Homo sapiens: one gene and its partners. The protein of the gene in region 4 purifies or fractionates together with the protein of the main gene of each other region. This does not show direct contact. Each region holds a gene or a part of one and is shown on either strand. Other genes may lie near its edges.

What was found.
Region 1: the proteins of TTLL12 (region 4) and USP34 fractionate together in Homo sapiens (co-fractionation; one large-scale study listed by BioGRID). This does not show direct contact.
Region 2: the proteins of TTLL12 (region 4) and RPRD1A fractionate together in Homo sapiens (co-fractionation; one large-scale study listed by BioGRID). This does not show direct contact.
Region 3: the proteins of TTLL12 (region 4) and ACTR2 fractionate together in Homo sapiens (co-fractionation; one large-scale study listed by BioGRID). This does not show direct contact.
Region 5: the proteins of TTLL12 (region 4) and PPME1 fractionate together in Homo sapiens (co-fractionation; one large-scale study listed by BioGRID). This does not show direct contact.
Region 6: the proteins of TTLL12 (region 4) and UFM1 fractionate together in Homo sapiens (co-fractionation; one large-scale study listed by BioGRID). This does not show direct contact.
Region 7: the proteins of TTLL12 (region 4) and SLX4 purify together in Homo sapiens (co-immunoprecipitation; one large-scale study listed by IntAct). This does not show direct contact.

What each region holds. Positions count from the first base shown.
Region 1 is NC_000002.12:61,345,588-61,349,087, forward strand, and holds part of USP34 (ubiquitin carboxyl-terminal hydrolase 34), read right to left. Parts: intron 3,300-3,500; coding exon 3,169-3,299; intron 2,894-3,168; coding exon 2,283-2,893; intron 1-2,282. UniProt on the Homo sapiens protein: Ubiquitin hydrolase that can remove conjugated ubiquitin from AXIN1 and AXIN2, thereby acting as a regulator of Wnt signaling pathway.
Region 2 is NC_000018.10:36,057,560-36,061,059, forward strand, and holds part of RPRD1A (regulation of nuclear pre-mRNA domain-containing protein 1A), read right to left. Parts: intron 1-3,500. UniProt on the Homo sapiens protein: Interacts with phosphorylated C-terminal heptapeptide repeat domain (CTD) of the largest RNA polymerase II subunit POLR2A, and participates in dephosphorylation of the CTD by RPAP2.
Region 3 is NC_000002.12:65,268,792-65,271,753, reverse strand, and holds the end of ACTR2 (actin-related protein 2), read right to left. Parts: 3' UTR 501-2,962; downstream 1-500. UniProt on the Homo sapiens protein: ATP-binding component of the Arp2/3 complex, a multiprotein complex that mediates actin polymerization upon stimulation by nucleation-promoting factor (NPF).
Region 4 is NC_000022.11:43,170,135-43,173,634, forward strand, and holds part of TTLL12 (tubulin--tyrosine ligase-like protein 12), read right to left. Parts: intron 2,421-3,500; coding exon 2,269-2,420; intron 1,767-2,268; coding exon 1,685-1,766; intron 1-1,684. UniProt on the Homo sapiens protein: Negatively regulates post-translational modifications of tubulin, including detyrosination of the C-terminus and polyglutamylation of glutamate residues. Also, indirectly promotes histone H4 trimethylation at 'Lys-20' (H4K20me3).
Region 5 is NC_000011.10:74,177,789-74,181,288, reverse strand, and holds part of PPME1 (protein phosphatase methylesterase 1), read right to left. Parts: intron 1-3,500. UniProt on the Homo sapiens protein: Demethylates proteins that have been reversibly carboxymethylated. Demethylates PPP2CB (in vitro) and PPP2CA. Binding to PPP2CA displaces the manganese ion and inactivates the enzyme.
Region 6 is NC_000013.11:38,359,851-38,364,119, reverse strand, and holds the end of UFM1 (ubiquitin-fold modifier 1), read right to left. Parts: intron 4,080-4,269; coding exon of another isoform or gene 4,054-4,079; exon of another isoform or gene 3,410-4,053; coding exon 3,342-3,409; 3' UTR 501-3,341; downstream 1-500. UniProt on the Homo sapiens protein: Ubiquitin-like modifier which can be covalently attached via an isopeptide bond to lysine residues of substrate proteins as a monomer or a lysine-linked polymer.
Region 7 is NC_000016.10:3,601,607-3,605,106, forward strand, and holds part of SLX4 (structure-specific endonuclease subunit SLX4), read right to left. Parts: intron 702-3,500; coding exon 512-701; intron 1-511. UniProt on the Homo sapiens protein: Regulatory subunit that interacts with and increases the activity of different structure-specific endonucleases.

The DNA of each region.
Region 1 (3,500 bases), on a different chromosome or scaffold from region 4:
GTTAGCCCAGGAAATCCTCACAATAAAACCATGAGATAGATACTATTGTGCCCATTTTATTTTTAGAGACAGAGTCTCATTCTATTGCCCAGGCTGAAGTGTAGTGGTGCAATCACCACTCACTGCAGTCTTGATCTCCTGGACTCAAGCGATCCTTCCACCTCAGCCTCCCAATTATCTAGAACTACAGGTGTGTGATACCATGCCTGGCTAGTGTTTTTAATATTTTTGTAGAGACAGGGCCCCACTAAGTTGCTCAGGCTGATCTCAAGCTCCTGGCCTCAAACGATCCTCCTGCCTTAGCCTCCAAAGCACTAGGATTATTGTTCCCATTTTATAGATTGAAAAAATGAAGAAAAATTAATTATTTTGCCCATCATAATACCACCACTAAGTGACAGAATCACATTATTTGGTATATTTCACAGATAACCAAAAAGTTTTATGCTGGAGCTTACCCTTTTAAATACCCTAAAATTAGATGTGTAAAATTTCCCTTTCTTAATCACAATTTAGGAAAGTTTCCATAAGCACTCATATCTTTTTTAGGCATTTATTACAAGATGTTGAAAATCTAATCCTGTGTTATCCAATATAATACCAACTAGCCATATGTGACCATTACACACATAAAACATGGTAGGTCTAGGCTGGGTATAAGTAGCTTACGCCTGTAATCCCAGAGCTTTGGGAGGCTGCGGCAAAAGCACTGAGGTCTGGGGTTCAAGACCAGCCTGGGCAACATAGCAATACTCTGTCTCTATAAAAAAAAAAAAAAAAAATTAAGAATTAGCTAGGAGTGGCAACACACACCTTAAGTCTCAAGTGCTCAGAAAGCTGAGGCAGGAGGATTGCTTGAGCCCAAGAGTTTGAGACTACGGTGAGCTATGATCACATCACTGCACTACAGCCTAGGTGACAAAGTGAGACCCTATCTCTTAAAAAAAAAAAAAAAAAAAAAAAAAAGGCCAGGTGCAGTGGCTCACGCCTGCAATCCTAGCACTTTGGCAGGCCGAATCATAAGGTCAGGAGTTCAAGACCAGCCTGGCCAATATGGTGAAACCCCATCCTACTAAAAATACAAAAATTAGCCAGGCATGGGTGGGGGGTGGGGGGCACCTGTAGTCCCAGCTGCTCAGTAGGCTGAAGCAGAAGAATCGCTTGAACCTGGGAGACGGAGGTTGCAGTGAGCCAAGATTGTGCCACTGCACTCCAGCCTGGGTGACAGAGTGAGATTCCAACTCAAAAAAAAAAAAAAAAAAAAAAAAGGCCGGGCCTGGTGGCTCACACCTGTGATCCCAGCACTTTGGGAGGCCGAGGCGGGCAGATCATCTGAGGTCAGGAGTTCAAGATCAGCCTGGTCAACACGGTGAAACCCCATCTCTACTAAAAATACTAAAAAAGTAGCCAGGCATGGTGGTGGGTGCTTGTAATTCCAGCTACTCAGGAGGCTGAGGCACAAGAATTGTTTGAGCCTGGGAAGTGGAGGTTGCAGTGAGCCTAGATCGTGCCACTGCACTCCGGCCTGGGCAACAGAGCGAGACCCTGTCTCAAAGAAAAAAAGAAGAAGAAAACAAATAAATCAATAAATATTTTAAAGAATTAAAGGGTGGCTGGTCTAAATTGAAAAGTGCTATAAGTATAAAATATGCACTAAATATTGAAGACTTGGTAAGAAAAAAAGGAAGGAAATACCTTAGTAATTTTTATACTTATTACATGTGTAAATGGCATTGTGGATATTATTGGTTTAACATGATTAAAATTAACAACCTGGTTTTTTATTGTTGTTGTTCAACGTTTTGCTTTTGAGTCTCACTCTGTTGCCCAGGATGGAGTGCAGTGGTGTGATCTCAGCTCACTGCAACCTCCACCTCCCAGGTTCAAGTGATTCTCCTGCCTCAGCCTCCCAAGTAGCTGGGATTACAGGCGTGCACCACCATGCCCGGCTAATTTTTCTATTTTTAGTAGAGATGGGGTTTCACCATGTTGTTCAGGCTGGTCTCAAACTCCTGACCTCAAGTGATCCACCTGCCTCGGCCTCCCAAAGTGCTGGGATTATAGGTGTGAGCCACTGTGCATGGCCAACAACCTGCTTCATTTTGTGTTTTTAAATGTGCCCAATAGAAAACTTGAAATTATCTATTTGTAGCTTACATTTATAGTTTGCACTATACTACTAATGAATAGCACTAATACAGAATAAATTGCAAATTGAATATAGGATATAATACTTCCCTAAAGGAAATATGAACTGAATATTTATTTTGAAGTAGGCTTACCCATCGTGGTGGTGGTGATGGTGGTGGTGGTGGTGGTGATGCTGTGGACCAATAAATTGTCGACAATTAAATAATTCATTCCCAATAGTCTCCCCAAGGAAGTCCCCAGTTCGTGTGATACAAGACTCCTGAGACCCTTGTGCTATATGAGTAGCATTCATTTCCCCTGAAATATCATGTTCTGGGTCTTCAGAGTGTGAACAAGCATCCAGCATTCGCATTCGATTATCTACTGATGGCAATGATTCAGTGTTAAAAACCAGGTCCTTTCCTGTTCCGCTGCTTGTCCCATTTCTTTCTGACATGCCTTGGGAGTCCCCCAGGCAAATGCCTGCTTGACTCTCTAACTTTCTATTCCGAAGATCTGTACCACAACTGCTTTTGGGAGGATTATGACCATGATCATCGTCTTCATCTTCCTCTTTGAGGGCTTCAATATCTGCAATGTCTTCTGACTGTACCTCACTGCCAGGGCTCCCAGCTGACTGGCTTGCGTGGCTAGAATTAACCTCATTGCTAGATCCATCACTATGCCCACTACTGCTACCAGGACCACTGCTTCCATCTTCACCACTGTTGGCAGTTTCGTCAGAACTTCCCTGCATGGATTCCTGTATTTTGAAACAAATAGATTTAAATAAATATTTAAACCAGTAAGAAAAAAGGTAACCAACATTAATAAACTGTACTTTTTAAAAAGGCTGCCAGTCTTGTTATACTCCTTTGAACAATACAAAATGGAATTAAAAACTCAAAGGATGTCAAAAATATTACGTAAAGGAGAGGACAAGCCCAAACATGAATTATGTATATATACCCAATTCAAATGATAAACACGCCAGAAAGCCAAAAATGCCTATAAAAGAAGAAAAACCTATTTTCATACCTCTGTGTCTGAAAGTCGTTGTTGCACATGTTTGGTTCTATTAATAAGTTGCTCATCCATTTCAATGTCACTACCTCCACTTTGATGTGTATCGCTATTATCACTGCTTTGAGGACTAGCTGCAGGTGACCCTATATAAAATACATTTTTTGTTTTTACTTCTAATTTATATTAACATTGACTTAACAGAATGACATTATCATTTGATTCCTTGACCTAGTTACCAAAGCTTTATGCTAAGTAGCCAAAAATAAAATCTCTAAATATGTTAACATTTGCTCATGATTTCTAAAGAAGATGTAAGATTCAATTAAAAGTCAAGATGTTTAAGA
Region 2 (3,500 bases), on a different chromosome or scaffold from region 4:
TGAGATCATGCCACTGCACTCTAGCCTGGGTGAGAGAGTAAGACCCTGTCTCAAAAAAATAAATAAATAAATAAAAGTTTATCTAAATGTGTATTATCCTGTCTACCTCCAGAAAGGACTTATGAACAGAAATGTTCAATTTGAAAAGTCAAATAATGCTGTTCTACATAACACCACATTCAAATGATTACAACAGCTAAAACCTATGTCTATATTCTTGGTACAGCTCCTAGTAAATTCTACATATACTTCAAATCTTAAACCAAAGGACCCTTCCCTGATTCCATAAACTAGGATAGGTTCCCAATTACATTTCTCCTTTGTATTACTGTGCAGTTACTAGTTTGGCAAAGTCCATTTGCCTGGCTGATATGTAAGCTCCATGAACACAGCTGTATGTCCCTTTATCTGCTCAATCATCCTTGTTCACTAAGACAGTAAGGAGGTCAACAAGTATTTCTTGAATAAAGAAACCTAATAGAAGAAACTTCTTGTATTTTTTGTGACAGGGTCTCACTCTGTTGCCCAGGCCAGACTGCACTGGTCAGATCATGGCTCATTGCAACCTCTGCCTCCAGACTCAAGCAATCCTCCTACCTCAGCCTCCTGGGTAGCTGGGACTACAGTCATGCACCACCACACCCTGTTAATTTTTGTATTTTTAGTAGAGACAGGGTTTTGCCACGTTACCCAGGCTGGTCTCAAACTCCTGGCCTCAAACAATCCACCCGCCTCAGCCTCCCAAAGTGCTGGCTGGGATTACAGGCATGAGCCACTGCGCCCGGCCAGAAAACCAACAGAAGAAACTTCTACTTGTACATTTTGAATGAAAAATTTATTTTATCAAGAAAAAAAGCCTGTAAAATTACAGATTGTTTGTTTAATGTAGGAACACACTTTTATTTTTATAAGAAATGTAGAGATAATTTGTTGAATCAGATGTAAAAACATCAAATCAACAACTTTTTTTAAAAAACCTTAACGTCACAGGAAAGAGAACCTAAATAAAATTACGTTACGGGCCAAAGGGAAATTTTATAAATTCAGTTTCTGCTTTTCTGGGGAATTAATATTTTAGAGGGATATGTCTGCTTAAGGCAAAGCAATGTATCCTAGTCTCTTGATCTAATTATCAATATTCAGAAAATGGTCCACTTCTCAGCCAACAGTCTGTGGATTCCAGGGGGTCAAGACACTTTCATGGGGTCAATTAAGTCAGAACTACTTTCACAAGAATGCTCATCTATTATTTGCCTTTTTTCACTCTCATTCTCTCACAAGCGTACAGTGTTGTTTTGCAGAGGTCATGTGATACAGCAAGACTGAATGCAGAAAAAGACACGAGAATTCAGCAGGCTTCTATTAAGAGAGATCTTATAAAGATCTGGAAAAATGTAAAATAATCACTCCTTTCCCTGGTATTTTTTAGCAAATATAATTGGTTTTCATTAAAAATGTTATGTTACGATAATTGCATGAGGTAATGGATACTAACTACCCTTATTTGATCATTAGACCAACATATACATCTATCAAAACATCAAACTGTATCCCATAAATACATACAATTACAATGTGTCCATTTGTAATTTTAAAAATCTTTTTTTTTTTGAGATACAGTCTGTCACCCAGGCTTGGAGTAATCTCAGCTCACTGCAACCTCCGCTTCCCGGGTTCAAGTGATTCTTGTGCCTCAGCCTCCCAAGTAGCTGGGATTACAGATGTGCACCACCACGTCTGGCTAATTTTTAAATTTTTAGTACTGACATGGTTTTGCCATGTTGCCCAGGCTGGTCTCAAACTCCTGACCTCATGTGATCTGCCTGCCTCAGTCTCCCAAAGTGCTGGGATTACAGGCATGCACCACCATACCTGGCCTTAATTAAAAATTTTTAAAATATTATTTAACATGAATCGATTTAGTATTATAGTTTTAAAACAAATAATTATTAAATAAATTTTTAAGTGTTTTAATTTCCAATGTAGTAACTAGCGGTAGATATAACCCACATAAACAAAAGATTTAGAATCTTCAATTTTTAAGAGTAAAGAGATCCTCAAACCAGAAAGTAGGAGAAATTCCTGGTCTAGAATAAGAATTTCTTTGGAACAACCAATTTGATTTTTTCAAAGAATACATTTAAAATAAAAGACAGATGGCACCCATAGATGTAAAGGAACTTTATTTACATAGTAATCAATTGCAATAAATGAACTTTACTTGGATCCTGATTCAAACAAATGGCTTCTAAAAAAGTGAAATGATCACGGAAATAAATACTGGCTCAATATTTGATATCTTAAGAAATTAAGTTTTTTTAAGTGTTAAGAAAGACTATAACTATTGAAGCTGCAAGATGACTACATGGGAGTCACCATGTCAGTTTGACAACATTAATCCTTTTAAATATAAGAACTTAGAAGGTGCTAGCATTGTCTACTTACTTTTTCAATTCTAACTCTGAAAGAGAAACAAGTAACAGTATCAGACAATATAAAAGCCACTGAACTGTCAATTTAAAACAGACTCTCTTCATTTTTAGGATTTATATTGCTATATATTTTTAAAGCAAATGAAAAATGTTCTTTTGGCCGGGTGTGGTGGCTCGCGCTTGTAATCCCAGCACTTTGGGAGGCCAAGGTGGGCGGATCACGAGGTCAGGAGATCGAGACCATCCTGACTAACACGGTAAAACCCCCATCTCTACTAAAAATACAAAAAAATTAGCCAGGCATGGTGGCGGGCGCCTATAGTCCCAGCTACTTGGGAGGCTGAGACAGGAGAATGGCATGAACCCGGGAAGGTGGAGGTTGCAGTGAACCGAGATCGCGCCACTGCACTCCAGCCTGGGCAACAAAGCGAGACTCTGTCTCAAAAAAAATAAAAAAGAAAAATGTTCTTTCACTTCTCCATTTTTCTAAAACCAAATTAATAAGAACAGCCAAGAATATACAGTACTTATTTTAGCACATCTTACAAGTTTAAGCCGTATTAGTGAATACGAATGTTAATTCAACGAATATTTAAAAACTTTCATCAAACGCAGTATGCTGGGGAGCTAAAAATTGAAATAGGTAAACAACCTGAAGGAGCCCACTATCTACTTCACAACCAATATGTAACCCCCCAACCTATAATACAATATAAAATGGTAATTAGTTCCCTGAAAGATATCTAACATAGCTTATTGAAAAAGTGATGATTTCAACAAATGATTACAAATAGGAGGAAAATCTAAACCTTAAATAATGTATTATTTTAATTGTTGCCAACCCTAGAAAAAATAAGCCCAGCATGGTAGTGTGCACCTGTAGTCCCAGCTACTCGGGAGGCTGAGGCAGGAAGATCACCTGAGCCCAAGAGTTCAAGAGCAGCCTCGGCAACATAGTGAGACACTGTCTCATAAAAAAAAAAAAATTTAGGAAACAAAGTTAACAGGCATTCAAAGGCTGACCATTTCCAGGTTTGGCTCTTTGCATCCAAAGCTATGTATCACCTC
Region 3 (2,962 bases), on a different chromosome or scaffold from region 4:
ACTCCGGCCCTGAAGCGGGCAATGAGGTTTGCACATACAAGTCCACGAAGAAGGAAAGGCAAAAATACTCTCTCTACTCTCCAGCCCTCATCCTCAAGGCTAGTATAAAACAAGAAAAGGTCAGTTAAATGTATTTTCATCCTTCTTTTATTTGTTAAAAATAATATGCCTAAAAGTCTGCAGATGAGCTAATATGTCCTTGAAAGGGGGCATGTTACATACAGGTCTCTTTAGCATTTCTAATTCTGTGAAAGCCACCTTAAATCTTTTGGGAGACAAAACAGTTTGTTGGAAGAAAACAGCCTCTGATGTAGCTATAAATCGCTATTCTATTTTCTTATGTATTTATAAAATCATACCAGAAATAATGAGTTGTTTTGTCAATAATAGAACACTGACATGAACTTGACCTAACAACTAGCATAAACTGTCAATTCATCTTGCATTAACAAGAAAATGAAACAAGAAATAACTATTAGAAAGAAATGACAAAATTCAAATTGACTTTGAAAAAATCTGATTTTATTTTCTCAATCAAAATGAAGTATTTCATGTTAATTTAGACTGTTTAGCTTTCCACTGATATCTCAAGATACTTTCCAGATATTAACAGTACTCAGAACTGTGTAAAAGTTAACCACCAAAACCATGTTTTAAAGAAAAAAGTTTAAATGTAAGACTAATGTCTTGGGGACTTTACTAAATGTATTTCTAAAAAAACCCTTCTCAAATGTAGAAGTATTGGCAATTCTAATTTAAAAATTTTAAATTTTTAATTATTGGAAATTTAAGTAGCAATAGTTTCAAGAGCTAAGAATCAGATTGCTTTTTAAAACAGAATTTTTTTTTTTTCCTGAGGGACTCATACTTGACAACTCCAGTTAAACATAATACTCCACCCAAATCCCAAATTTAAATGCATTATGTCACCCTGGAATAGTAAAATTATAAAATGGTATTTCTAAATTATAATATATATACATAATGCACCATTTTAACTGTCACATTTACCAGCAGAATTATGAAATCAAAAACAAATTCTACATTCAAGGGACAAACGATAAATGCTCTTTCATTGTTTTAAGAGTCCATTCCATTCTTTGTTGTTTTCTACTCCCATATTTTAAAATTATGACCAAAGGAGCCTGAAGGCCAAGTCAATCCCATTTCCCTGAACCCAACTGCCAGTAGGTACGGGCCCTACATACGCGTCCTTTAACAAGCCCCGTTCTCAAAAGGCTGGGGGTATTTATATAAGAACTTATTCCAAAGTGACTCTAAGATCCATGTTCCCAAGATCTAGTACGGGCTATTCAGGGTTCTGAGGCATGTCCAGCATGCAGGCAAACTTATCTGTTCAAATTGAGGTAAAACAGACAAAAAACACTTAATATTAACAGAAGCTACATAATTAAAACTAACCTTCTGCTGCTTATTTAAGCTAATGATGTATTCTTACCAAACAGAGACCCTCAAGTCAATCATTTCTTTTGATTTTAGTTACCACCCCCAAATTAAGCCTCTTCTTTCAAAGCTATTATTAGTTAAAAAAAAGTTTTAAAATGAAGAAAAATATTTTTTCCAGAACTTGTATTTTGTAATTAGTGTGATGCAATTTCTTTTTATTTTTCAAACTTAGAAATAACTCATGTATGGTACTATTTGGTATTTTTTTCAGATACCAAGGAATACCGACAGGATTCATAAATAGGATTTTCTGACACTGGCAGGAAAGTCTGCTAACGTTTACAAAATACCAAAGACTCTTCTTTCAAGCTTCAAAGATGGCTGAGAATTAACAGTTATGATTAGTTTTTCAGTACAAATAAAAAAATTAAATCTTGATTTTTTTGGCCAACATTTTAAACAGTCAAATTTTACTGTATTTCCAGGTTTCAAATCAAAACAAACAAAACAACTAATGAAAATTACCCAATTGGCAACAAGTCCTGTATTCCAATGTTATTTTTAAACCACCAATTATAACCTACTGCCAGTAATTATTTGTAAGTACCTGCTTGTTTTATTAAGCACTGGTCAGTTATATAAAAGAATAATTTGCAAGAATGATACTTGGCAATGGGTTACCTTAATGCTTCTGGAATAAACAGAAGCATTAACAAAACACCAGATCTTAAGCTCTTTTAAATCTGTAATTCGAATTACCCAAAGGATTTTTAAATGTTACTTTTCCATTGAAGGACTGTAGGGAGTCTAATCCCAGCTAACATGGTTGATTTTAAAAAACAAATAAATCCCTAAGCCACATAGTAATGGAATACTACACTTGCTTTTTATATCATATGGAAACAGCTCCAGGCAGAGCACAAGTAGAAGAAAACCTGCCAAATCAAAGTACTGTAAATAAAGTTCCTCTACGTACTCCAGTTGACAAAACCTCAAAAATAAAAATCAGAAGACCACCCATTGTTACCCTCCCCCCCGCAACAAAACCCACCCAAAACACTTTAGTTCTGAACCTAACATTTCCCTAAGAAGTTCACAGGAGAAGCTTTAAGGTACTTAAAGCTGCAGCAGTACAGTTGAAAGCGCCACATTACAGAGGAAATGCCCTAAAGGGTTCAGCAGCTGCCCACCCATCCCGAACCACCCCCCATCCCAGTAATATGTAAAAGCTCCTGTTAAAGTTTTTTTTGTTTTATGCTAATAAAGGCATACCACCTAGTGTGCTAAAGACTACGACTAGCAGCATTAGAGCAGTAAAGTGAAAATAGGAAGCCTATAGGAATGATCTAAATGCCTACTTAGAAGAAACAAAGCAGCAGACAGAATCCTTAGCCCTCTAGTCTATGTAGGGAAGCAGTTGAATTAAACTCAGATTTACCCACATTAACAAAAATTTAACAAAGCTTCCCCAAGACACCAGAATAAAACTTGACCTTTCCAGTCAAAGGGCAGAGAGAGGCCTCTTCCATGTCCTGGAGTTGAATGAGTTCAAAGA
Region 4 (3,500 bases):
GCCCGCCATCCATGCCATGCTGGACGTACCTCCCCAGGCACAGAGCTCCAGGAGAGGACTCCCGGGATGACCCCCACAGTACAGAAGGGAGGGGCTCAGAACCTGAGGGCGACTTCCAACAATGTCCTGGGGCCCTGCTGGGGGGTCTGGGTCCTAGGGAGTAGGCTTCAACACAGGCAAGGATAAGACAGACAGAAGCAACAGGACCACTCGGCCCCTGTGGGGAGTGTGTGCTGGTATAGTCACCAGTGCATGGCAGGGCCCTTTCTCCAAGTCCTCCTAGAGGACTCCTCGGACATGGGCATGGCCAGGTGCCTCCACGCATGTTCACGCGCCATGATTTATCATTAGTGAAGACCTCAGATGACCAATCGCCGCCACAGTTAGCAACAAGCCCGAACCTCAAAACCTCAAAACACGCCACTCAGCCAACAAAGCAAGCTGCAGAAGGATCCGTTGAATAAGATGATATTTACATAAAAACCTAAGTAGGAGGCCGGGCATGGTGGCTCACGCCTGTAATCCCAGCACTTTAGGAGGCTGAGGCAGGCGGAGCGCTTGAGTCCAGGAGTTTCAGACAAGCCTGGGCAACATGGCGAAACCCCGTCTCTACTAAAAATACAAAAAAATTAGCCGGGCGTGGAGGCACGTGCCCGTAGTCCCAGCTACTTTAGGGGGCTGAGGCAGAAGGATGGCTTGGGCCCAGGAGATTGAGGTTGCAGTGAGCCCAGATCATGCCTCCGCACTCCAGCCTGGGTGACAGCGTGAGACATTGTCTCTCAAAAAAACAAAACAAAACAAAAAACCTAAGTAAGCAAAACAGCAGCTTGAATGGTCAGGAACATACTCCTGCTGAAAAGAACCAAAGACATGCCTGGGAATGACAGCCACACGTTCAGGGGTCGGGGAGCGTTGGGGCTGGCTGCATGGGGAGTCCGCGGCACCTGCAAGGCTGGCGACAGGCAGGGTGGGGTAGGTGTTCTGTGCATCTGAAACACTCATTAACCAGCCAGGCCACAGAGGCCTTCCAGGACTTCCTTTCTTCCTTCCTGTACCCAGAGCTGGCCTCCTGCTTCTGTGCAGGCTGTGCCTACCTGTCCACGTACACTGGCTGGCCAGCTCTGGTTTCTCGCCCCCACCTTGGAAGGGCCTTTGTCCAGATGCCCCTGAGCTCCAGGTGCTCAGATGGTGCAGCTGCCATTCACTGAGTGCCCACTGCATGGGGCACCGCTCAACACTGTGCACCAGGGAGGACAGGAGGTCCTAGACCCGGGCAGGGTCACGGGCCAGCAGCCAGCCGGACCAGGTGGGGCCTCCCCGCCCCCGCCTGCCCTGGCACTCACAGGGTGGTCTGCTTTTCCGGTTGAAGTGGTGGTGAGGAGTAAGCCCCGGCTGGGAACACACTGTCTCAACCTGCTGCTGGACCCATCCCCCTCTGTGTCCACATTATCTCAAACACAGCCAGTGGCCCTCTGTGCCGTGGGGAGACCTACCTGAGACAACACAGAACCCAGCCTGGCTCATGATGGCAGCGCTAACAATCGCCTTCCATAGCAGGAACTCAGGAGGCGGCTCCTGGGACTGGCCTGTGTGCCAGTCCTCCTAGGAGGCAGTGTGGGCGGGGTGGGGTCGGGTGTGCCCTGGCCTCTGTGTGAACCTGCTCTGCACCTCCCTCAGGCCCTACCTGCTTCAGCACCACATCCGGGTCATAGTTCATGACCGTGAAGTGCTTCTCGTAGTCATCCAGGTCGTTGAGTGCAAAGGCCCTGGAAGACAAGTGTGCAGACACATATGGGTTCTTGAGCGGCCTTGTCCCTGCGAGGGAGGTGCCACCCACTCAGCCTTCCCAACTAGGGGTTCAGGGCTCAGGGCAGGACCACCTGCTGCTCAGGCGGGAGCCTGTTCCCTTGTCTGTGTGGCTGGGGGAGCCCCACAGCCCCACTGAGCTGGGGTGGAGGTGAGTGAGGTGCTAGCTGTGAAGCCTCTGCAGGTCCATAAAAATGGCACCTGGTTCTCATGTTGGTGCCCATTTTACAAAGAATGTTCACATCCATTACTGTGGGCAACACCAGAACTCTGAGGTGGGCAGGGCAAGTCACCGCCAATTAACACCAAGGGAGATGGGCTCCAAGGGCCGCTAGCTGGGTGAGTGATGGAGGGTGCCTTCCAACAACATTTTCTGATTCCAAAAAGGGCCCATCACCCACCCGCTACCTCCACCCGGTCACCCAGCTCCCCGACCCTGGACCCAGCCGGCCCTCCACTTACCGGTTGGAGAACCGCAGCCAGAACACATCATACACGAACAACCGTAGGGGCCTCACTGACCGCAGCAGCACGATGTAGCGGATGTCGAACTTGACCTTTCCCACGTCTTCTCGAAGGAACAACACGGGACTTTCGATGTACTTGGACACAACCTGGAGGACACAGGTGCAAGCTCGCTGGTGGCCAGGACAGAGCCCCCTGGGGCTCCCGAGCACACAAAGCCACGCAGGGGGCACAGACATGGCTGCACTTTACTCCTCCTTCTGCCTTTTCAAACCTGCCTAAGTTGCTGCAAAGTCTTTTTTTTTTTTTTGAGACAGAGTTTTGTTCTGTTGCCCAAGCTGGAGTGCGGTGGCACAATGTTGGCTCACTGCAACCTCTGCCTCCCGGGTTCAAGCGATTCTCCTGCCTCAGCCTCCTGAGTAGCTGGGATTACAGGTGCCCGCCACCACCCCCAGCTAATTTCTGTATTTTTAGTAGAGAAGGGGTTTCTCCATGTTGGCCAGGCTGGTTTCGAACTCTTGACCTCAGGTGATCCGCCCACCTTGGCCTCCCAAAGTGCTGGGATTACAGGTGTGAGCCACCGCACCCTGAAGCAAAGTCTTTATATCCATTTTTAATTGAAATGAAATATAAATTCTCACCCATAATTCCATCCACCCCCATCCCATGGCCTGAAGTCTCCACGACAATCGTCCTCATGATGCATTTCCCGCCAGCCTCTGACTATGTACACAGTCCAGGCAGATCCTGTGTCCTGCAATCCCAATACTGCTTCTGGATGTCCCCTCACTATGAATCTTTACCACGGCTCTGAGAGGCTCCTTGTCCAGGCTCAGCCACCTCACCCTGCTGGGCAGCCATACCTGGCACACTATGTGGTAGGAACTTTGCGATTAGACGCACCCAGGACAGTTCTTTTTTTAAAGACTGGGTCTTGCTCTGTCGCCCAGGGCGGAGTGCAGTGACGCGATCACAGCTCACTGCAGCCTCAACCTCCCGGGCTCAAGTGATCCTCCTGCCTTAGCCTCCTGAGAAGCTGGGACTACAGGTGTGTGCCAACATGCCCAGATAATTTTTAAAGTTTTTTCCCTTGTAGAAACGAGGTCTCCCTATGTTGCTCAGGTTGGTTCCAAACTTCTGGGCTCAAGTGATCCTCCTCCACTTCCCAGAGTGCTGAGATTACAGGTGTAAGCCACCCTGCCCAGCCTGGACCTGTCCATAAGGACCAT
Region 5 (3,500 bases), on a different chromosome or scaffold from region 4:
ATCATGAGGTCAGGAGATCGAGACCATCCTGGCTAACAAGGTGAAACCCCGTCTCTACTAAAAATACAAAAAAAAAATTAGCCGGGCGCGGTGGCAGGCGCCTGTAGTCCCAGCTACTCGGGAGGCTGAGGCAGGAGAATGGCGTGAACCCGGGAAGCGGAGCTTGCAGTGAGCCGAGATTGCGCCACTGCAGTCCGCAGTCCGACCTGGGCGACAAAGCGAGACTCCGTCTCAAAAAAAAAAAAAAAAAAAAAAAAAGTGAAGAAAATGGAAGGCATTGCCAACAAAATAAACTTGGCAATTGTTAAGTGCAAGAAACACTTAGGAAATTACCACTGCTTAGGACATGACTTTGGAGCGCTTTTAACACTAGCCTTTAATGGTGGACCACTTGCTCTGGTCCCTAAACTTGGTGAAGGTGCTTGGAAAATAGTCTTCGCTCTTAGAGAATAAGTGATAAATTGGGCAAGGGCAGAAAAATTGAATACTATAAAATAAGGCTAGTGTGAAAATAATTGCTAATTGACATTTGCTGTCTTATAATAGTGGACTTGCTTTCAGGTTTGGGGAATCAAAGAGGAAGACATAAATTGTCAAATTTTGATAAAATAAAAGTAACAAGCCTGAATCTGTACATATCATGAGACCTATTACAAGCCTATTACAAGACCTATTACAAGAGTTTCGACCATATAATTATTTTAAATCTCAAAGTAACATATTGTAAACACAATACATTTTACCTAAAAGCTGGTATTGAAATAGAGATTCTATTATTCTATGAAGTATAACCGCTTTTAGGAGAAAGGCAGTATAGCCCTAGTTATACCATCTTAAGGGAACTGATGGGGAAATAACGTTGTTCTTATAGAACGGGGTTAAATAGGCCAGGATTTGGGTTTCTCGTTCAGTTAGCACTAAAGGAGACAGCATTCTAAGCACCAGCAAAATTCAGACACAATTCCTACCCTTATGAACCTCAACAGTTTTGAGGAATACACAGTTGACCAATAATTACAATTCAGAGGACTAAGGAGAATAGAGAATGTTCTGCTTGTCTACAATGTGATATGCCTACTAGGAGATAATGACCAAAACCAACAAAATTATATGATCAAATCCTAAGGAAAGCCAGGAGGAAGGAGAGAAAGGGGAGAAAGGGAAGGAGGAAAAACCTTCCTTGCCTAGAGAACAATAACCAAGAAATGTAAGTTGTATGTTTTTACATGAATGTCTCAAATCTAAATAGGAATAACACATCAACATCTAGGCTGCTTAAGTCTGTTAAGAGAGTTATTGATGAGTCATGAATGGGCACAGTAGCAGTCTTAATCACTTGTTGTCACAAATTCTGTCAAAGTCTAGGAGTCTGGTAGTGGAGGCTAAATACTGAAGTTTAATTGCAGCCAGCTATTTAAATCAAGGCACCACTGTTTTTAAAATGTCCTTATTAGCAGTACTTTGAAGAGAATGAAAAGAAAGCAACCAGATGGCTGGCTGAGGGTTGTGGTAGGTCTGAAGTGTTCCTTACTCCAAGGCATGCCATTAAGCAGCAGACTTCAGGATTCTAAAAACTACATCATGAATCATGCTGTTAGAGATCATCTAACTCAAATCTTACTTTATGAAAGGAAACAACTAGGTGTTTATTACGTACCAAGCATGGTTTTGAACAGTACCATTAAAGTATTCTCATTTTAAGGTGACTCAGAAATACTAAATAACTTTCCCAGAGCCATTTTTGGTAGCACCGGAGCTTGGATTTGACTTTTTATTTTATAATTACTATTTTTAGAGATAGGGTCTCATTCTGTCTCCCAGGCTGGAGTGCAGTGGCACGATCACAGCACACTGCAACCTCAAACTCCCAGGCTCAAGTGATTCTCCCATCTCAGTCTCTCAAGTAGCTGGGACTAACAGGTGCGCACCACCATGCCTGGTTGTTTTGTTTTGTTTTAGTACAGACAAGTTTTTCCTATGTTGCCCAGGCTGGGGAGCTTGGATTTAAACAAGTACGTCAGGTGCCAAAGCGTTCTTTCTTTCCATGATAACGAGGCCCAGGAAGAGAAACTGACCAGAGTCATACAACTTGTTAGTGGCAGAGAGAGGATGTCTACTTAAACCTGGAAAAAGTCTATGGCCAAAAACACACACAGAAGCATATAGGAAAAGGACTGATAAGTAAACAACTTCGGTCTTCCGGTGTGGTTTGAAATGATTGGAATTTTCAATATAATCTCTTATTCAATCTTCAAAATATATTGGTAGAATATACCTGTAACTTGTAATCAATATTGTATTTGAAGAATATCTAAGTGTGGCCACCCTCTTAATAGAACTATTAATTAAAAGTTTCTTCTCTTAAAAAAAAAAAAACTATTTTGTAGTTTGAAGGAAACAGTCTTTCCCAAACAACTAGAGATGTTTTCTGAAATCTGACATCAAGTAGCATAACATGGAAGGCTCATTAGGTTTAAAATAAAACAAAAGAGCAAATTACCCAATTTTGGAGATACTAAGAAGAAATAGATTTGCTGGCAATAAGCAACAATGGAAAAACGGACTTTTACTCAGAAGTTCTGAAATGAATGTCAAGGGGCTGAAATCTGGCAATAAGGGGCAGGGGAGTTGGGGGTGGGATTATTACTTCCTATACTTACACTGCAATGAAAACAGTAGGGAAGTTGAAATCAGAAGATTAGGCTTCTCCACTTGTTAACCTCAGGATTTGGGCCAGATGCTGTTTATTCTCTATTCCAGACATTACCTGCCCACTTCCCACTCTCTCTTCCCTAACAGAATTGTAATACTTTTGTTTGAGCAGCTAGTGGAGATCTCTTGTTGTCTCTCCTCCAGTCCAAGGGAATGAATCAAAATTGGTCTAAACCAGTCATAGTTAATCCCATTCCCTACTGCCAGTGATTGGTTTTAGGATGGGTATGTGAACAGTTCTGGACAATAAGACTTAAGGGAAAAATCTGTTGGGGAGCTTGCATTTCTGGGAAAAAATTAAAAGACAAGCTTAGCTAGGAAAGGACTTTGGCCCCCGCTTCTTTTTATTTGTAAAGATAAGATAGAAGTAGAGTGGCAGCAGCCATCCTGCAACCATAAGGTGACAAGCAAGAGAAGGAAAAGCCACCATTCTAAGGATGGCAAAAGAAAGGATGCAAACAGCCTGGGTCCTGAATGAAATTGTTTAGCAACTGAATGAACCCTGGAACATCCTATCAATAATAAATGTCCTTGTAGTTTAAACTACAGTAAACTGATAACAGCAAATTAGATTGTTTCACATCAATATAATGTTGCTAATGTGAGTTTGGGGATTTTTGTAGACTTAATTGTATTTAAAGAGTAAATCTACTGAGTTTCACAATTATTTAAGAGTACTATTGAATTTAAGTAATATTAGATTGAATATAACTTAGGTCAATACTTGGAATCTGAAATATATTTCCTTCAAAAGGGATTCATACAAATTGAAAGATACCATATTTCTT
Region 6 (4,269 bases), on a different chromosome or scaffold from region 4:
TCTATTCGACAATACCGCCATCGTCATCATGGCCCGTTCTCAATGAGCTGTTGGGTACACCTCCCAGACGGGGTGGCGGCCGGGCAGAGGGGCTCCTCACTTCCCAGACTGGGCGGCCGGGCAGAGGCGCCCCCCACCTCCCAGACGGGGCAGCGGCCGGGCGGGGGCTGCCCCCCACCTCCCAGACGGGGCGGCTGGCCGGGCGGGGGCTGCCCCCCACCTCCCGGAGAAAAACTTCAAAGGTTGTGCAGTGAGTGAGACTGTTAGCTAGCACCTTCACCTCAGGCTACTTACCAAGCATTGGAAAGTGCACTGTCCAAGATTCCAGAACATATTCTACTTACTTTGACCCCTTAGACCTCATTCTGTTCTTCTACAAAGTGAAAAGGTGGCCTTCTCATTAATTCTCAAACCACCTGCATGGCAGAAATCACCAGAACTCCTGTTTACAGAGGATCTTTATATATTATTACAGATGTAATAAATCAGAATTCAAGGAGTGGTTTCCAAAAATCTGTATTTTTAATTTCCTAGGCGACTCTGTTATCACCCAGGTTTGGAACCTACCAACCTAGCCAGTTACAATAACCCCATTTTCTTCTCAACTTTTTTTTTTTTTTTTTCCGTCTGTAAAATGGACAGGCATTTGCAAGTACTGTTATGTATCACTGAATCACAGGAACAAATTCTGAGAAATGCTTCCTTAGGCAATTTTGTCACTATGTGAACATCAGAATGTACTTGTACAAACCTAGTTGATGTCACCTACTACAAACTTAGGCTATTTGGTATGGCCTATTGCTCCTAGGCTACAAACCTGTAGAGCATGTTACTGTACCTAATACTGTAAACAACTGTAAAATGATGGTAAGTACTTGTGTATCCAAACATAGATAAAGCACAGTAAAAATATAGTAATATGGGACCACGGTCATATATGCGGTCTGTTGTTGGACGAAACATCACTACTATGTCTGTGGCAGATGACTATAAACTAATTTCTCTGACTTATGGTCATTAATCATCTTTGCCCTTTTTTTCTTTACTACATGTATTATATACTGACTCAAAAGGTGTGCTGATTAAGAGCTCTAATAATAAGAACAGACAATATGGTTTACAATATAACAACATGTATTTTCATTAGATATTAATTATAAACCAATAACGCATGTAAACTGAATACAATACTTCAAATCATTCTGCACAAAGAAATTACAGATCACATTTTTTTAATAACAAAATGTCTACTTGTTTAATAAAATGTTTTTAGGAACTTACAATGTTCAAAACCAAAGAATAAAAATATTAAATATATCACTTTATGGCACAGGACAACATAAATTTATTTTTGTAACACAGCAGGCAAATTTTTGTGCTAGAAACAGGATGGAGAAAAATCTAAATTAAAGCAAAAAGTCAGGAAATGGGTGTTCATAAATTCCTGCTTAACTAAGACTCAACATTTATTGTAAGAAACGGGGCCTCTGAACATCAGATTTTGTTTATAAAAATAAAAACTTCCTCCCTGTCTCTGCTAAAAATACAAAAATTAGCTGGGCGTGGTGGTGCATGCCTGTAGTCCCAGCTACTCGTGAGGCTGAGGCAGGAGAAGCCTGGCGACAGAGAGTCTGCCTCAAAAAAAAAAAAACAAAACAAATAAATAAAAATAAAAACTTCCTCAAACATCAGATTTTTTCACCTCAGCAAATACTTTTTCCTTTGATAATTCATAATCCTGCTGTTCATTTGTCACATTTATGAATATCTGGTAATTTCATAAACAACTACCAATGGTACACTTCAAATGCTGATTCTGTTGAATCTTCTTATTTTTTTTCCCCCAATGAACTTAGGGCCTATGATAGAGAAGATACTGAAACATGCTAAGATAATAATTGGTCTTAGAAAGACTTTACAGCAAGTATTTAATGAAAGCCACTACATTTCCAGCTCTAAAAAGAGCCAGACACAATCCCTGCTTCCAGAGTTCACCATTCAGAATACAGGAGGTCAAGCACTGATTCTGAATCATTAATGGGCTTTGATTTCGTCTTTCAAGATTTGCATAGATACTGATTTCTTCCGGAAGGGCAAATAAAATCTTCCCTTACACACATCATTCTTTGGATTCTCATAAGGGGTATTTTGAAGTCTGTATGTTGACAAGGCCAGTAGATACTTTGTTTTCTCTAACTGCCTTCTTCTACTTAAGACTATGTCAAGTATTTTGTTTTCCCTTTCAGTTCTCCCCAACATACACCTTCTGCAGTTTTGTCTATCCAGTCCGCTTTTCTGTAACACTTTGCTACCCCCTTCTGTTCCCCTTCACTGTTTCCTCTGTTGCTTTCCTCCTTAATAGAAGCCTGGTGATCTGGGCTTCCCCATCTTTCCTTTCCTGGCTTCTTATTCACATGGGTGACTGATCTTAGCACTTCCTTAAAAGTTGGGTTTTCAATAAATATAACTCATCAGCACTTCCGATCTGTATTTCCTTGAGCTTTTTTTTGATCTTCAGATCTGTGCAATAATACTCTGTTCCTGAATGCTATTTAGAAATACTATCCTCAAAACACCAGTGGTTTCTTGAAGCTACTTGTTTTAAATGTTGTATCAAAAGAGATTGATAAAGGAATGTATAACTCAGCAAAGGATGCTTCTACTGTAAATTCCCACCATTAAAAGTACTGGATTCTATAGGTCCACCATTAAAAGCTGGTATGGGACACCAATTTATACACATAAGGGTTAGATTAAAATTTTAATTTTTTGGTTGATATTAAACTGAAATTTATATAACTGAGGTCTGAATCTTAAAAAAAGTAAATGATAAAAATTTAATATAGTTAACTGTTCACTGATATGTCTATTCACTTCATCACAACCTATATATTTAATTAAAAATCAAATTATGAGTCTGCAAATCAGATGCTATCAAGCAAATTGCCATCCAGGGTCCATAATTCTTTTTATATTTTTATCTCAGATGAATATATACGATTCAGTAAATTTTAATGTTCCAAATTGTTCTAAAAAAAAAAATTATCAAAAGCTTCCAGTTAACAGTTGGCTAATTCATTTGCCCCCAACGAACTACCTGTTTGTGTTGTGAGGTAGCATCAAAGACTATGATCTTCTGTGACAGTAGTAGCCTTAATTCATACGCATTCCCTCTTCATAGGAAGAGTATGGACAACAAAAAGGGACAGATGAGTCACCTTTCATTAATCATTGACTCCTGGTGTTTTCATAGTATGTTAAATGCCTGATTTCAATTTTACAACAACAAAAAATACCAATATTTATTCTGAAAGGCAATCGTATGTTCCAAGTAGCAGATATTAACAACTTCCAACACGATCTCTAGGAATAATCCGCAGTTCTGAACCATGTTTTAGAAAAACATTTCCTATACAAACAAACAAAACATAAAGTTAGATATCTAAAAATCAAGTTATCTTAATATTCTGACAATTATTAAATATAATAAATGATTTAGTAAACAGTAAAATGGGTACAAAAGCTCAAGCATCATGAGACCCCAATTCCAAGCTTTTTAAGTCTTGTTCCTATTCTCCTATCTTCACAATCCAACATACGCTTAAAATTTAAAATAACACCAGCCATGAAAACTCTGACGAATACTTTCATCAAGTAACTGTGAATAATTTAATCATGAATACTTCCTTCAATACACAATAATATATCTAAGGACAGGAAAAAAAATGTAAATTACTACAAGTGACAAAAATTTAGATACCCTGACATATTTGGGGTCAATTGCCTGATGAGATTTTCTTCATATCAAGGATATGCACATTCAATTTTTAAAGATAATAAAACAAGCAGTATGTTAGAGTTAGCAGTAATTCAAACTACTGTAAAATATTGAAAGTTTCTCGATTAAGAAAAAAAGAAACCTTTGTCTACTAAGTTTAAAGGCATCCATACAATAAAGTGCCTCACGATTTTCAATAAACCTTTTTAATAAAATTATATATTAACAACTACTGAAGTAACAAAAATTTGCAATTTTAAATCACTTCATTTTCTTTATGGCTGAATTTCAACTGCAAGGCCTGTGAAAACAACATAATTTTGTTACAATAAAGAAATACTTTAGAATATAATTTAAAAATAACTACTGCTCTAGAATGAGGTTACATTAAAGCATGCCTAATTTTAAAACTTTAGATTATAAGCCTAAGAGATTACATTTTAAAAATATAAAACTAATTTTAAAAAAGTTTTAGACTTCTTTTTATAAAG
Region 7 (3,500 bases), on a different chromosome or scaffold from region 4:
AAAACACAGTCTAGCCATACAATGAGATACTGCTCAGCCATAAAAAGGAATGAAGCCTGCTCCATGCTACAACATGGATGAACCTCAAAAACAACATATTAAGTCAAAGAAGGCAGACACAAAAGGACAACTGTGCAATTTCAGAATCGGCAAATCCATCCAGACAGAATGTTGATTAGTGGTTGTCAGGGGAGAGAGGGGCAATAGGGAGTGGCTGCCAATGGGTGTGGGGATTCTTTTGGGGGTGATGAAAATAATCCAGAAGTGATTGTGGTGACAGTTGCCCAACTGTGTGAATATCCCAAAAGTAGTGATTTGTTCAGTTTAAATGGGTGAACTATATGTTCTGTGAATTGTATCTCAACGAAGTTATTTTTAAAAAGGGGTAGGTTGACAACAAAGCTGAGGTGCTGTTGTCATGGTAAGGTGTGGAGATCCGCACTCCAGCCCTGGGGTGCTTGGGGATTCTGGTCACATACACGGGAGAGGCGACGGCCCAAGCTGCCCCCACCTGTTCACATGCTGTTCCCTTCGGGTCACGTTCATGGCTGAGAGGTTCTTTTGACAAATCTGGCAGAAGAACAAACCCTTTTCCTCCAGGCTATCATCATGTGCCGATGCTCCTACCCGTGCAAACTCCTGCTGCAGGGTCAAGGCCACCGCAGCGTCGCTCTCTGGGGCAGGGGGCCCAAGCCCATACACTGTGGAGAAGCACCAAAGATCCGTGAGAATAAACTCCAAAGACAAGCTCACCCTCAGACCTCTGCTCTGTCAGCTCCTGCAGACCATGGGGAGCAGGTGGAACGCAAAGAAACCAGAACCCAGCTCCACTCTGCAGGCTGGTGACTTGGACACTGTCCAGTGAGACTGGGCACTAATCAGCACTCCGGGAACAGCCGTCTCCAACTTTAACATGGATATGCATTACCTGGGAAGCTTGTCGACACTCAGATTCAAATTCAAGGGGTCCAGGTGCAGCCTGAGACTCTCCGCATTTCTAGCAGCCTCCAGGCTTGGCGATGCTGGCAGCACAGGACCACTCTGAGTAGCAAGGACCTAAACTTTCCCACTTCTGCTGAAGTTGGCTACCTCGGGCATTGCAAGTTCACAAGGCTCATATTCCAACAAAGCTAGATGTTCTCTTCAAAACTCACCCTTTCCTGCTGACCTTTTACTGCCCATGATAAAACCAGGGCAGAGTGAAATGCCTTTGGCGTTTAAAAGGCAGCATCTCTTACTTAGCATCAGACTCAAGAATGGACTGATTCTGGTCTTGAGATGGCTCCCAGGGTGGCCCATCTGATATTGCTGGAGCAGACCCCTGTCACTCACAAGGGATATGCCCTGAACGCCTCATAAATCCCCAAGTTCTTCATGGCTGTGGCCTACCAGTGCCTGCCACTGAGGCCAGCAAAACAGCACACCTTCATTTTGGTGCCCTGTTTTGTTTGTTTGTTTGTTTTTGAGATGGAGTCTCACACTCTGTCGCCAGGCTGGAGTGCAACGACGCGATCTCAGCTCACTGCAACCTCTGCCTCCCGGGTCCAAGCGATTCTCCTGCCTCAGCCTCCTGAGTAGCTGGGATTACAGGTGCCCACCACACCTGGCTAATTTTTAGTAGAGACAGGGCTTCACCATGTTGGCCAGGGTGGTCCTGAATTCCTGACCTCAGGTGATCTGCCCGCCTTGGCCTCCCCAAAGTGCTGGGATTACAGGCGTGAGCCACCGCGTCCAGCCTGGTTTGGTTTCTTAACAAACAAATGGTTTATCTCTTTCTGAGCACTTGCTGGGTGTGATGTGAAGATACAGAGAGAACTGAGTCAAATGCTGGGCAGGGGCGGAGCTCACACCAGCTGGGTGCCTCCTCTGCAACTCACATGTGCGTCCAGGACTGATGCCTCGGCAGGACATCAAATCACTGCCTGCTGTGGACCCTGGGGTGGCCTGAGACTCCTCCGTGCTACTGCAGTGAAATCTGCAATGCAATGCCAAGATCCTGCATACTTATTAGCTGTAGGTCTGCCGATAATGGTTTCTTCCTATTTCTTTTCCTTTTGTATATTTTCATCAGAGATGAGAATCCATATTGTTTTGGGGATGGAGAACAGGAGCACCTGGCATTATTACGCTTATTGGGCCGGTGCCACACCAAGTACACAGCAGCTATGGGGCACTGTCGCCACCCTGTCTCACCTGCAGCCAATGAGCCTCTAATCTACTCAGAGTGGGGCAACCCAATGGTTAGAGGAAGGAGTTAACGATCCCATAAAGAAATAAATCCAGAAAGTGGGAAATCTTATAATACAATTAGCCTAGCCTCTTCAAAAACTCAGTGTCATAGGGCTGGGTGTGGTGGTTCACACCTGTAATCCTAGCACTTTGGGAGGCTGAGGAGGGCAGATCCCCTGAGCTCAGGAGTTCAAGACCAGCCTGGGCAACATGGTGAAACCCCATTTCTAGTAAAAATACAAAAAAATTAGCCGGGTGTGGTGGTGGGTGCTTGTAATCCCAGCTACTCAGGAGGCCGAGGCACGAGAATAGCTTGAACCTGGGAGGCAGAGGTTGCAGTGAACCGAGATTGTGCCACTGCACTCTAGCCAAGCCTCTGTCAAAAAAAAAAAAAAAAAAAGTCAGTGTCATGGAAAACAAAAGGAAATGGGGGACTATTCTAGAATCTAGACCTTAGGATACTGCTGAGCTACAGCAATATGCAGTGTGTGAACTTACTGAATCCTTGTTCAGAAAAAAAAGAAACCAGCTACAAAAAATAACCTTGAGACAACCAGGGAAATTTGAGTTTGAACTGGACGCCAGGCACTATTATGGAATTAAGCGTGCTAATGGTATTGTGGTTATGCAGCAGAATCTAGGGGTAAAGGATCCTAATGTCTATAATTTACCTTCAGATAATATGGAAGAAAAATATGTACGCTTGGCTAGGCACGGTGGCTCACGTCTGTAATCCCAGCACTTTGGGAGACTGAGGTGGACAGATCACAAGGTCAGGAGTTCCAGAACAGCCTGGCCGGCATGGTGAAACCCCAACTCTACTAAAAATACAAAAATTAGCTGGACGTGGTGGTGCATGCCTGTAGTCCCAGCTTCCTGGAAGCTGAGGCAGGAGAATGGCTTGAACCCAGGAGGTGGAGTTTGCAGTGAGCCGAGATTGCGCCACTGCACCCCAACCTGGGAGACAGACCAAGACTCCATCTCAAAAAAAAAAAAAAATGTATATTTATAAAGACATAAACAAATGGCCAAATGTTAACATTTGTTAAATCTAGATTGAGGTATAGGGGATTAGGGGATTCATTGTAATTTTTTTTTTTTTTTTTTTGAGACAGGGTCTCACTCTGTTGCCCTGGAGTGCAATGATGCAATCACAGCTCACTGCAGCTCAACGTCCTGGGCTCAAGCAATCCTCCCACCTCAGCCTCCCGAGTAGCTGGGACTACAGTTGTGCACCATCATGCCCAGCTAATTAAAAAAAAATTTTTTTT